Homo sapiens: one gene and its partner. The protein of the gene in region 2 interacts with the protein of the main gene of each other region in a biochemical or structural test. Each region holds a gene or a part of one and is shown on either strand. Other genes may lie near its edges.

The links. Proteins that work in one complex are often made in the same cells at the same time.
Region 1: of the proteins of MARCHF1 (region 2) and INSR, one has a biochemical effect on the other in vitro, tested with the Homo sapiens proteins (one study listed by BioGRID).

The regions. Positions count from the first base shown.
Region 1 is NC_000019.10:7,284,401-7,291,427, forward strand, and holds part of INSR (insulin receptor isoform Long preproprotein), read right to left. Parts: intron 1-7,027. UniProt on the Homo sapiens protein: Receptor tyrosine kinase which mediates the pleiotropic actions of insulin.
Region 2 is NC_000004.12:163,527,002-163,534,028, reverse strand, and holds part of MARCHF1 (E3 ubiquitin-protein ligase MARCHF1), read left to right. Parts: intron 1-4,982; coding exon 4,983-5,281; 3' UTR 5,282-7,027. UniProt on the Homo sapiens protein: E3 ubiquitin-protein ligase that mediates ubiquitination of TFRC, CD86, FAS and MHC class II proteins, such as HLA-DR alpha and beta, and promotes their subsequent endocytosis and sorting to lysosomes via multivesicular bodies.

The DNA.
Region 1 (7,027 bases), on a different chromosome or scaffold from region 2:
CTTAGCCAAGGAAGAGTAGAGAGCAGGGCTTCAGCACCCTGGGGGGCATTTGAAACAGCCCCATCACCAACTGAAAGCACAAAAATGCTAAAAATGTGGCACCAAATAACCACAAAAAGGACTCAGGTTTTTTTGTTGTTGTTTTTTGTTTTGAGTCTCACCCTGTCACCCAGGCTGGAGTGCAGAGGCACAATCTCGGCTCACTGCAACCTCCACCTCCTGGGTCCAAGTGATTCTCCTGCCTCAGCCTCCGGAGTAGCTCGGACTACAGGCGCCCGCCACCACACCTGGCTAATTTTTTGTATTTTTAGTAGAGACAGGGTTTCACCATGTTAGCCAGGATGGTCTCGATCTCCTGACCTCGTGATCCACTCGCCTCGGACTCCCAAAGCGCTGGGCATGAGCCACTGCGCCTGCTCAAAAAGGACTAGTTTTAATCCTCAGTGTGCAGATTGTATGAATCTGACGCATAAGGGCTGAAGCAAGAAGGTGGAATGCCCTCTTACTTGACCTCACATTTGAGACTCGTACTTATGAGTGTCCTAAAATGACCAGAAAGGCACTGAGCATGCTGGTTTGAGGGTTACAAATACATTTGAGTGAGTAGGTGAATTCAAAAATACAGGGTCTGGGGCCAGGTGCAGTGGCTCATGCCTGTAATCCCAGTACTTTAGGAAGTCAAGATGGGAGGATCACTTGAGGCCAGGAGTTCGAGACCAGCCTGGGCAACATAGCGAGCCCTTATCCCTGCTGAAAAGTTAAAAATTAGGCCGGGCACAGTGGCTCGCGCCTGTAATCCCAGCACTTTGGGAGGCTGAAGTGGGCGGATCACTTGAAGCCAGGAGTTTGAGACCAGCCTGACCAACATGGTAAAACCCCATCTCTACTAAAAATAAAAAAAACTAGCCGGGCATGGTGGCGTGCCTGTAACCCCAGCTACTAGAAAGGCTGAGGCAGGAGAGTTGCTTGAGCCCAGGAAGCAGAGGTTGCAGTGAACCCAGATCACACCACTGCAGTCTGGCCTGGGCAACAGAGTTAGTGAGACTCCGTCTCAAAAATAAATAAATAAATAAATAACAATAAAAACTAGCTGAGCATGGTGGTGTGTGCCTGTAGTCCCAGCTACTCAGGAGGCTGAGGCAGGAGGATCGTTGATGCTCAAGAGTTGGAGGCTGCAGGGAATTAGGACCACACCACTGCACTCCAGCCTGGGTATCAGAGCAAGAACCTGCCTCTCAAAATAAAAATTTAAATTTTAAATTTTAAAAAGAAAATATGGGATCTGGGAATGATGAGGATCAACCAGACTCAAATTTAAAATTTCAACTTTAGGAATATTAATCCAATTATAAGATAAAATCTTTTAAAGTCTAGAGAAAACTATAGGGATGGAGAACAGATCTGTGGTTAGGGGTGGAGGTGGTTTAGTGATAAAGGGGTGAATTGAGGGAGTTTGGACAACAACGAGACTGTTCTCTATCCTAATTGTGGCAATAGCCATACAACTCTACACATGGCTTAAAAATCATAAAATGGTACACCTTTAAAAAGCCAATTTTACTGTATGATAATGTTTAAAATATTTTGTTGTTGTTGTTGTTACACAGTCTCACTATGTCACCCAGGCTGGATGCAGTGGTGCAATCACAGCTCACTGGCGCCTCGACTTCCCAGGCTCAGGTGATCCTCCCACCTCAGCCTCCCTAGTAGCTGGGACCACAGGTGCTCACCACTGTATCTGGATAATTTTTTTGTAGGGTTTTGTAGAGACGGGGTCTTGCTATGTTACCCAGGCTGGTCTTGAACTCCTGGGCTCAAGAGATCCACCTGCTTCGGCCTCCCAAAGTGCTGGGATTACAGGAGTGGCCCCATGACACCTAGCCTAAAAAATTACTAAACATCAAAAAGATACATAAACCAATGGCACAGTTACCTCCCTGGACATGAATGGAATGCTTTTGGGGACAGGGGGACAAGATTTTTTTTTATTATTTCTTTTCTTTTTGAGACAGGGTCGGGCTCTATCACCCAGGTTGGAGTGCAGTGGCATGAATATGGCTTACTGTAGCCTCAACCTTCTGGGCTCAAGCGATCCTCCCACCTCAGCCTCCTGAGTAGCTGGGACTACCGGTACACACCACCATGCTCAGCTAATTTTTAAACTTTTTCTAGAGATAATGTCTCATTATGTTGCCCAGGCTGGTCTCAAACTGCTGGCTTCAAGTGTTCCTCCCACCTCAGCTTCCTAAAAAGTCCAGGGATTACAGGTGTGAGCCACTGCACCCCACCACAAGATTTTGCAGAAGGACTTCTGTGTTTTTTTTTTCCTTTCTACACTTTTGTAATTTTTCTTTTTGCAATGAGAATGCATTACCCGTCACTATTTAATTAAAAACTGTAAATACCATGCAGCTGCAAAATATCAACCAGGCCACCCCAAGAAGTATTCTTTTTTTGTTTGAGACAGAGAGAGGATCTCACTGTTGCCCAGGCTGGAGTGCAGTGGTACAATCACAGCTCACTGCAGCCTTGCCCTTCCAGCCTCAAGAGGTCCTCCCATCTCAGCCTCCCAAGTAGCTGGGACTACAGACACATGCCACCATGCCCAGCTAATTTTTGTTTTATTGTTAGTGGAGACAGGGTCTTGCTGTGTTGTCCAGGCTGATCTGAAACTCCTGGACACATGTAATCCTCCCACCTCAGCCTCCCAGAGTGCTGGGATTGCAGGCATGAGCCACTGCACCTGGCCAAAAATATTCTTTTTTTTTTTTTTTTTTGAGATGGAGTTTCGCTCTGTCACCCAGGCTAGAGTGCAGTGGCGCAATCTCGGCTCACTGCAACCTCCACCTCCCAGGTTCAAGCGATTCTCCTGCCTCAGCCTCCCAACTAGCTGGGATTACAGGCATGCGCCACCACGCCTGGCTAATTTTGTATTTTTTCAGTAAAGATGGGGTTTCACCATGTTGGTCAGGCTGGTCTCGAACTCCTGACCTCAAGTGATCCACCCACCTCGGCCTCCCAAAGTGCTTGGGATTACAGGCGTGAGCCACCACACCTGGCCCAGAAGTATTCTTAACAGAAATTAACACAAGAGAGGCCTGAGAGAAAAAAAAAAAATCTCATTATATACACCAGTTATATTTTGGGTTCTAGATACAGGGTTGAGAGCATGAAATCCTCATTCAATGCCAATATAGCTGTTTAAATAAATACACATGGCTAAGTAGGCAACATCACGGTGATTTTTCTCATCCTTGGAATCCGTATATTCAGTGCAGCAAATGACACACGTTTCTTTAACATCTCTTGCGGTGTAAAGAGAAAGACATAGCGTTTCATTTCACTCACTTCATTCGAGTTGTACCAGGGACTGCACAAGCTATTAGGCATGCTATCATGAATGAAACCTCAAGGCGTCTGTTCCAGATCAGAGGTCAGCAAACGCTGTTCTGTAAAGGGCCAAAGTGTAAATATTTTGGCCATGGAATTCCTGTTTTAACTACTCAACCTGCCGTGTCGGGGCATTTTTGCGCAGTCATAGATGATGAGTAGACAAATGAGTGTGGTTGCATGCCAATAAAACTGCATTTACAAAAACCGTGGGATTTGGCCTGAGGGCCATAGTTTGCTGACCCCTGTTCAGATGAAGAAGTCGGAATCTATGTAAATTTCTTAGCTGGGCGCAATGGTTCCTCATGCCTATAATCCCAGCACTTGGGAGGCCCAGGAGGGAAGACTGCTTGAACTAGGAGTTCAAGACCAGCCTAGGCAACATAGCAAGACCCTGTTTCTACAAAAAAAAAAAAAAAGTTTTAATTAGCCAGGCATGGTGGTGACTGTCTGTGAGCCCAGGTACCCAGGAGGCGGAGGCAAGCAGGTTGCTTGAGGCCAGGAATTCAAGACCAGCATGGGCAACATAGCTAGACTCTGTCTCTACAAATAAATTTTAAAAATTAGCTAGTCATGGTGGTGCCTGCCTGTGATCCTAGTTTCTCAGAAGGCCAAGGCAGGAGGCTCACTTGAGGCCAGGAAATCAAGACCAGCCTGGGCAACATAGTGAGACTCTGTCTCTACAAACAAATTTTTCAATTAGCTGGGCATGGTGGCACCTGCCTGTGATTCCAGCTACTTGGGGAACCTAGGTGGGAGGACTGCTCCAGGCCATGACTTGGAGGCTGCAGTAAGCTAGGACTAAACCTCTGCACTCCAGCCTGGGTGACAGAGCAAAATCCTGTCTCTAAAAAGAAATAAAAATTGGAAAAAAAAAAAAAAAAAAAAAGGGCCGGACACGGTGGCTCATGCCCGTAATCCCAGCACTCTGGGAGGCTGAGGTAGGTGGATCTCTTGAGGTCAGGAGTTTGGGACCAGCCTGGCCAATGGGGTGAAACTCTGTCTCTACTAAAAGTACAAAAACTAGCCAGGCGGGGTGGCACATGCCTGTAATTCCAGCTACTGGAGAGGCTGAGGCAGGACCATTGCTTGAACCCAGGAGACGGAGGTTGTAGTGAGCCAAGATCATGCCATTGCACACCAGCCCGGGTGAAGAAGTGAAAAAAAAAAAAAAAAAAAAGTGAGCTGAGAGAAGATTAAAGGAAACACTGACCCTCTGGGAAGAGAGAGCCAACATCTTAGCCCAGGTAGAAGGAGAAGAGAACAGTAAAACAGAAGAACTTAGGCACAGGTGAGACGGGAGACACAGCCTTCCAGGAGGGGGGACTGGCAATGTCAAACCCAGAGGGGTCAAGTGAGGTGAGGCTGCAGGAGACGCAACTGGGAGATGAGAGATTAACTTCGAGAGCCATCGGTAAAGCAGCGGAGATGCAAGCCAGATGCTGGGGGCAGAACAGTGAGAAAAGAGTGAGATGGAAAGGGCAGGGAGGACTGGCCTGGGGAAGCTGGACAGGGTGGAGGCTGGAGGTCAGTGGTAGGTAATGGGGATTGGGGGGTACTGGGTGTTTAGAGGCTGAAAAAGCACGTGGGTAAATGAAGATTCTTTTTTCTTTTCTTTTTTTTTTTTTTTTTTGAGACAGAGTCTCTCTCTGTTGCCCAGGCTAGAATGCAATGGTGTGATCTCGGCTCACTGCAAGCTCTGCCTCCCAGGTTCAAGCGATTCTCCTGCCTCAGCCTCCCAAGTAGCTAGGATTACAAGGACCCGCCACCACACCTGGCTAATTTTTGCATTTTTAGTAGAGATGGGGTTTCACCATGTTGGCCAGGGTGGTCTCAAACTCCTGACCTCAGGGGATCCGCCCACCTCAGCCTCCCAAGGTGTTGGGATTACAGGCGTGAGCCACTGCACCCGGCCGAGGATTATTGAACAAAGAGAGGAGAAAGAGCAAGAGCCCAGATGGGTAAATGTCTCAGACAGGGAAAAGGTTAACTCCTGCAGAGACGTGCCTGGCAATGTCTGGAGACATTAGTGGTTGTCATGCCTGGGGGGAAGGGGATCCTCCCAGGACCACATGGGTGGAGACCATGGTTCCAGCTCAACACTCTACATACAGGACAGCCCCCACCACCAGGAATGATCCAGCCCCAAATGTCAGCAGTGCCAAGATTGAGAGTTCTGCTTAAACCAAAGAGGAATGGAAGTCAAGGGTAGAGTGGGGTGAGGTGGGGAGCCCTGGGGACTCAGCCCACACCCTGTGGTCTCTATGCATGAATGGGGAAGGGCAAGAAGCAGGTCTCCAGGAGAGAAGCAAAGAATAAGAATAACTGCAGAGGCCAGACACCGTGGCTCATGCCTGTGATCCCAGCACTTCGGGAGGCCAAGGCAGGCAGATCGCTTGAGGCCAGGAGTTTGAGACCAGCCTGGACAAAATAGCAAGACTTCAGCTCTACACATTAAAGTAAAAATTAGCCAGGCAGGGTGGCGTGTGCCTGTGGTCCCAGCTACTACGGAGGCTAAAATAGGAGGATGGCTTGCGTCCAGGAGGTCGAGGCTGCAGTGAGCCATCATTGCCCAACTGCACTCCAGCCTAAGCAACAGAGCAAGACCTCATCTCAAAAAATAATAGATAGCTAGAGAGATAGATACAAAAATCACACTGATTTTCCTCCACCCTTCATCCCAATCAAAATGCCATATTGGGCCCGGAGTGATGGCTCACACCTATAATCCCAGGTCTTTGGAAGGCCGAGGCAGGCAGATCACTTGAGGTCAGAAGTTTGAGACCAGCCTAACCAATATGGCGAAATCCCATCTCTACTAAAAATACAAAAATTAGCCAAGGGTGGTGATACACGACTGTAATCCCAGCTACTCAGGAGGCTGAGGCAGGAGATGCACTTGAACCTGAAAGGCGGAGGTCGCAAAGATCGTGTCACTGCACTCCAGCCCGGGTGACAGAGTGACACCCTGTCTCAAAAAAAAAAAAGAAAAAAAAAAAGGCCAGGTACGGTGGCTCACTCCTGTAATCCCAACACTTTGGGAGGCCGAGGCGGGTGGATCACAAGATCAGGAGGTCGAGACCATCCTGGCTAACACAGCAAAGCCCTGTCTCTACTAAAAATACAAAAAATAAGCCGGTGTTGTGGAACACGCCTGTAATCCCAGCTACTGGGGAGGCTGAGGCAGGAGAATCCCTTGAACCTGGGAGGTGGAGGTTGCAGTGAGCTGAGATCGTGCCACTGCACTCCAGCCTGGGTGACAGAGCAAGACTCCGTCTCAAAAAAAAAAAAGCCATATTGGTTGACATTAGAGATTAATGATCTGAAAAGTTCTTTGCCCCTCCCCAAGCCTTCAAGAGGCATCACAGCCCATTTATTTGACAGGATTTTGTTCACCATCACCCCAATCGTGGGGGGTACGGAGGCTCGGACTCAAAAGAACAAAGATTTGTTAAGAAACCATTGCTCTGCAGCCACACTAGCTAGATTGCAATCCCAGCCCTGCTGCCTGCTGGCCTCAAGCGAAGTTTTCTCACTTGTGAAAAGGGAAGATTAAACCGCACCTCGTGGGGTTTTGCCGTGAGGATTAACTGAGATTATATATGCAAAGCGCATAGAACAGCACCTGCTGAGAGCT
Region 2 (7,027 bases):
CTTTGGATAAAGTTTACTAAGAAAGGCACTGGATGAGAGAAATCAGGCAGCTGAGGATGACGATAAAATAAATAGAGGTATAGATCATGAGCATTTATTGTGCAAGACTGCAGCAAATTTTAGGCACAATAAACTCCATTGGGCATGGCTAAAAAGAAATGGAGTGTTTTTGTGCAATAGTTTCCATAAATATATCATGCATACATTACCAATTTCCAAATACCTAAATGCTCACAAACCCATCTCTTACTCGAAGAAATTCTATAAACTGACCTAGACACAGTGATGAATTCATGGAACTAATCTCTCAAGTAAGGAGCTAATATATATAAATATATATATATATATTATATATAAAAGACTATTTTTGGAGCAGATTTAGGTTAACAGAAAAATTACAAAGAAGGTAAAGAGAGAGTTCCCACATACCACCCTGCACATACACAAGGTTTCTCCTGTTATTAACATCTTGCCTCAACGTGGTACATTTGTTACCACTGAGGAGCCAATATTCTTACATTATTAAAGTTCATAGTTACATTGGGGCTCACTCTTTGTGTTGTACAGTTCTATGAGTTTTGACAAACGTGTAACGTCCTGTGTCCACCGTTACAGAATCATACAGAATGGTGTTGCCGCCTTAAAAAGTCCCTGTGTTCCACCTATTCATCCCTTCCTTTCTCCTCCTAAACTGTTGGCAAACACTGATCCTACTATCTCCAGTTTTGCCTTTTCTAGAATGTCACATAGTTGGAATCACGCAGTATGTAGCTTTTTCAGACTGACCTCTTTTATTTAGCAATATACATTTAAGGTTTCTTCGTGTCCTTTTGTAGCTTGATAGCTCATTTCTTTTTAATCACTAAATAATACTCCATTACATGGATGTATCACAGTTTATTCATTCACAGATTGAAAAACCACTTGGTATTTCCAGCTTTGAACAAATATATGAATAAAGCTGCTACAAACATTTGTGTGCAGGTTTTTGTGTGGACGTAAGTTTTTGTTCATTTGAATAAGTATAATGTTGTATCATTTGAAAAGCTGTGGTTACCATTGTAAAAAACTGCCAGACTGTCTTCCAAAGTGACTGTACCATTTTGCATACCTATCAGCAATGAATGAGAATTCCTGCTTGTCGTTCCACATCCTTTCCAACGTTCAGTGTTTTCAGTGTTCTTTTTTAAAACTTTAGCCATTCTAATAGGTATATAATGATATCTTGTTTTAATGTGCAATTCTCTAATCACATATATTAATAATCTTACCATCTGTTTATCTTCATTGATGACATATCTGTTCAAATCTTTTGCTCATTTTGTAATTAGGTTATTTTCTTATCATTGAATGTTAACAGATCTTTGTATATTTTGGATACAAATCCCTTTTTCAGAATATGTTTTGCAAATATTTTTTCCTGTGGCTTTTCATTCTCTTAACAGTGACTTCCTCAGAGCAAAAGGTTTTAGTTTTAATAAAGTCCAATTGATCCATTTTTCTTTTCATAGATCATACTTTGGTCACCTGAATTTTCTTATCTTTTAGAAGCTGTATAGTTTCACAGTTTACATTTAGTTCTATAATCCATTTTGAGTTAATTTTTGTGAAAAATTTAAGGTCTGTTTACAGACTCATTTATTCGCATGCAGATATTGTTATACCAGCACCCATTTGTTAAAAAGACTATCCCTTCTCCATTGAATTGCCTTTGCTCCTTTGTTAAAGATCAGTTTCCTATATTTGTATCAGTCTATTTCTGGGCTATTCTGTTTCAATGATTTATTTCTTTATTCTTTCATTGATACCACACTGTCTTGATCACCGTAGTGGTAGTAATCAAGGATAGTGTCAGTTTTCAAAAACTTTATTCTTCCACTTCAATATTGTGTTGGCTATTCTGGTCTTTTGCTCTCCATATACACTTTAGAATCAGTTTGTCAATATCCATAAAATAACTTGCTGGAATTCTGAATGGGATAGTATTGAATCTGTAGATCAAACTGGGAAGAATAGATATCTTAATAATATAATATTAAGTCTCCCTATCCATAAATGTGGAACATCTTATTTCATTCAGATATTCTTTTATTTCCTTCATCATAGCTTCATAGTTTTTCTCACATAAATCTTGTACATATTTTGTTAGGTTTACACCTAAGGTTTTTGTTGTTGTCATTGTTTTTGTTTTGTTGGCACAAATGTAAATGGGCTTATGTTTTTAATTTCAAATTCTGGTTGTTCACTGCTATATATAGGAAAGCAATTGACTTTTTGTAAAACTTTGTATCCTGCAACATTGTCATAATCACCTATTTAAAAAAAAAACTTAATCAGTTCTTTGAGATTTTATACATAATCATATCATTTGTGAACAAAGATAGTTTTATTTATTCTTTCTCAATCATCTTTTATTATTCTTGTTTTATTGCATTAGCTAAGACTTCCAGTGTGATGCGGAATAGGCATGGTAAGAAGGAACATCCTTGTCTTGTTCCTGATCTTAGGGGGAAAGCATCTAGTTTCTTACCATTATGTCAGCTATAGGTTTTCTATGTTCTTTATCGCATTAAGGAAATTCCCTTCCGTTCCTAGTTTTTATCATGATTGAGCGTCGTATTTTGTCAAATGTGTTTTCTGCACTTATTGATATATTCACATTTTTCTTTAGCTAATTGATGTGATTACATTGATTTCTGAAACTTGAACCAACTTTGCATACCTAGAATAAATCTCTATTGGCTGTAGTGTGTAACTGTTTTTATACATTGTTGAATTCAATTTGCTAATATTTTGTTGAGAATTTTTGTATCTGCTCATGAGAGATACTGGCCTATAACTTTTCTTCATAGTAATTGTCTTTGCCGAATTTAGTATTGGGTAATGCTAGTCTCACCCGATTAGTTAGGAAGTATTATCTCTTCTATTTTCTGGAAAAGACTGTAGAACATTGATGTCATTTCTTCTTTAAATGTTTGGTAGAATCCACTAGTAAAACTATTTGAGCTTGGTGCTTTCTGCTCTGAAAGGTTATGGTTGATTTAATTTCTTTAATAGATCTAGGGATATTTAATTATCTGCCTATTAATTACACCTGCCACTGTAATGATCTCTTATTTCTCCTGTGTGAGCTTTGGCCAATGATATTTTGAAGTATTATTTCCATTAGGATTAAGTAAATATTCAAGATGATGACTACTATGAATTATTCAAGTCATAAAGAAGTCCTTGCGTATTAGGAGTTAGTTAGAAAAAATTTACCTTTGCTACCGGTAAAGGTTCTAATAAATTTGATTGCATATATTTAATCTACTCAAAAACTAAGTTCAGATTTGATTGCTGAAAGAGGCATAGAAATTTATTTTAAATTGACAGTGCCAAACAGAGCAACAAATTAATGAAACATCAACAACAGTGAGAGGCTTTTCATGTTTTCTTACAATCCCTTTTAAGATCAGAGAACATTTTTTCCCCAAAAATTTCAAAGGAAGAGTCAGAGCCAAAGCATTTTGAAAAGAAAAAGAGTTTACTTGAAAAGGTTCAAGGGAGTCAGACTTCAGAAAAACTGGATAAGCAAGTGAAAAATATAACAGGTATTTAAAGAAAAATATAAAGAAGATTACCATGATTACTAAGTTTGCATTAATTTGTTCATGGAGAAAAAACAAAATCTTATCACATGATGATCATATTCAGAAAGATCTTGCAACATGAGCTAAATAAAAGTCAAGAATAAAATGGTGTTTGCTGGGGATCTGGGATTATAAGAAATACTCAATGTTTCATTATTTTGGGACCAGAAATTGACAGGGTAACGCTGTTATTTTTGGTTAATCTTAGGGTACAAGGTGCTTCATCATGATGGAAACAAACAGGGCATGATTTCTGCTTTGCTTCCAGAAGCATAAAGCAAATGTCACTACTACAAAATATAGATAGGATATTTCTTATAACTCTAATCACTGTTGTAAGTAAATAAAAATCCAAAGTCAAATCATAGACTCTCAATTACCATGGTTTTTACACATTTCTACCATCCCTTCCTGGTGCACTGTATTGAGCCATACTGAGCTATATTTTTCTACTTCACAACTTTTCACTTACGGGAAGACAGCTATTGTCCCCCACACCACCCTAATGTGGGCAAGAGGACCACTTGACCCTCATATATTTAACACTCTTGACCCTCATATATTTAACATTCATAATTATGTATTGCCTAAATACTCACTGTTGTAGTCACTGAAATGCCTGTGAAATAATTTTTAAAACTGTATTTACAAAAGAAAGCCTATTTCTAGTAATGGTGATGGAAATTAAGAGAAAATATAGACATCTATAAAAGTGTGATGGTTCTCAATGACAAAATATGATTTATGAAACAAATGGCTAAAATCCTAAATCTTTTGCATGTTTGTACTCAGGAATTCTCTCTCTGGTGAGATGTGGCAGCTTTTTCCTTCCCCTCCCTCTTACTCCTCCCCATCTCCCTTCTTCCATTCCTTCCTTTCCTTTTACATTTTAAAATAAATGAGGGTGGGAAGACCTGTACATACAAACCCATACATGTACCTATACCTCATCTTCTTAGAAGGATTTTAAACTCTGATTCTTCCATTATGTTCACCATCCTTCCTTAAAAGTCTAGCTATAAGGGATAAATGTCAGTGTCCAAATGTCCAAAATCTAACATAATATCTCATAATTATGATAGGTACTTGATGCTAGGAGAAATAAGAGATTTGACAGTGATAGGTGAGAAAATGTCCTGATATACAATTTTGACAGTACATGTAGGATACTCAAAAGGAATTACGCCAATTCGGGTTATAATTCTTTCTAGTTATGAAGAATATATTATTTCTGTTAACATACATAATCTAGAAGGCAAGCACGGGCTTTTGAAGGGTCATAGAAAAAAAAAATGACCAAATCCACTGAGGACAACTTGGTGATAACATTTTCTCTTTTTCATTTCAAAGGTGTCCTTGAATGGCCATTTTGGACAAAACTGGTTGTGGTAGCCATTGGCTTCACAGGAGGTCTTGTCTTCATGTACGTACAGTGTAAAGTCTATGTTCAGTTGTGGCGCAGGCTGAAGGCCTACAACCGTGTGATCTTTGTACAAAATTGCCCAGACACTGCCAAAAAACTGGAGAAGAACTTCTCATGTAATGTAAACACAGACATCAAAGATGCTGTGGTAGTGCCTGTACCACAAACAGGTGCAAATTCACTGCCATCTGCAGAGGGTGGCCCCCCTGAAGTTGTATCAGTCTGATGGAACCTGTTGGGAGTTTCTTCACCGAAGAATATCTTTCTAGCCCTCAGCCACTACAAATGACAGAAGTGATCTTGAATTATTTACTCCCTTCAGCTCCTCCTTTCTCCTACTGACACATTTTTCCTGACTTTGTTCAAAGAGGAAAGGAGAAAAACAAACAGACCAAATGCCCAGGAGCCCATGAAGTAATAGCGTAAAGTAAAGTATGATATGGAAATGTGAAGTTTGCAAGAGAATGATTTCCAAGACAATTAAGAACTACTGGGGCAATGAATGCTTTTAGGCAGTAATCAAAGATTAAATGGACCCATGATACTCTTCTTCACAGTAACAGGGGAAAAGTTCAAGAATACAGACTTGAATTGCGATGTGTATTACTTCTAGGGCCTTGTAATGTTAACTGTCTCATCTGGAAATAACTAACATATTTGGTTTTAAGCCTGAAATTGTCTGCATTATCCCTAAGTCACATTGGAAGTGAACTTGGAGGATGCATATTTTGATATGCTTTGACAGCTAACAGATTTGTATGGTTTAGTGGAGTCTGGTTATTTTGACAGATGCATGTTTTTTTTAAATAGATGCAATATACATTTGAAGACATTGATATTTGGAATTAATTACGTTTGTTTAAGTCACGCAAAAGATTTTCAGAAAATGTTCGGATATAATTAGCTCTGTTAAATACCCACAGAACTGTTATCAGGTCTTATATTTATTTTCATCTGGTTCCTCTAATACAGTGCTGTCCAATAGAAACACAACAGCCACAAATGCAGGCCACAGATGCAAATATTTAACTTCCCAGTAGCCCTATTTTAAAAAGTAAAAATAAATGTTTGTTTGTTAAAATGAATTTTGATTTTTTAAAAACACTATATGTTATTTCAACATGTCATCAATATAAAAAATTGATTGATTGATTGATAGTTTACATCTGTTTCTTGAACCAAGTTTTCAAAATCCAGTTGGTAATTTAAAAGTACACTTCAACTTGAATTAACTATATTGGATAGCACAGCCGTAAAATTAGAGACTAAGCTTCTGCTTTATTTAACAGTTGTTGAGTATTTCAAAACAGTTTAATTCATTCTTTTATTTCAAAGTCACAAAAGTTAGTTATGATTTTTAAAAGCATTAAATTAAGTGTCCTCATTTTAAAGTCAGATGAAGTTCACATCTCTAAAGGGTAAAAATCCAAAAGTATAGAAAGATAAAACAATCAATCTGCCTATAGCAGAGTTGTGAAATAAATAAATTGTTACTATGAAGTACTTACAATAGGGGAATAAAATTACCTATTTTTGTTATTAAATCAAATGTGTAAGGCTTATTTCATCCATATGAGGTGTCAACTTGACAGATGATGAGTAATTATGACTAAGAATCTAGCCCTTACTTTTAAAAGCTGACAGGATTTCCCTTGCTCAGTTAGAAAACAAAAATATTCAACAGATTCTGTGATAAGTAATTAATCGTTTAGGTTTGACAGTTGATTATTGTGTTCTTTGCATATTCATGTAAAACTGATGTGTGAATGACATTGCAGTGAGCTAGATTAACGGTGATTATAGATACAGTAGCCTGTCAAAGAAAGATGTCCTACATTAAAAAAGGTGACTTATTTTTGTTAGCTGTCATTATTTATTAACATGAAAAGGCAATGATGGCCATAAGAACCAAAGCATGAGTATCACACTGCACAAATCTGGGTATCACATGGATGCACTTTGTAATTATCAG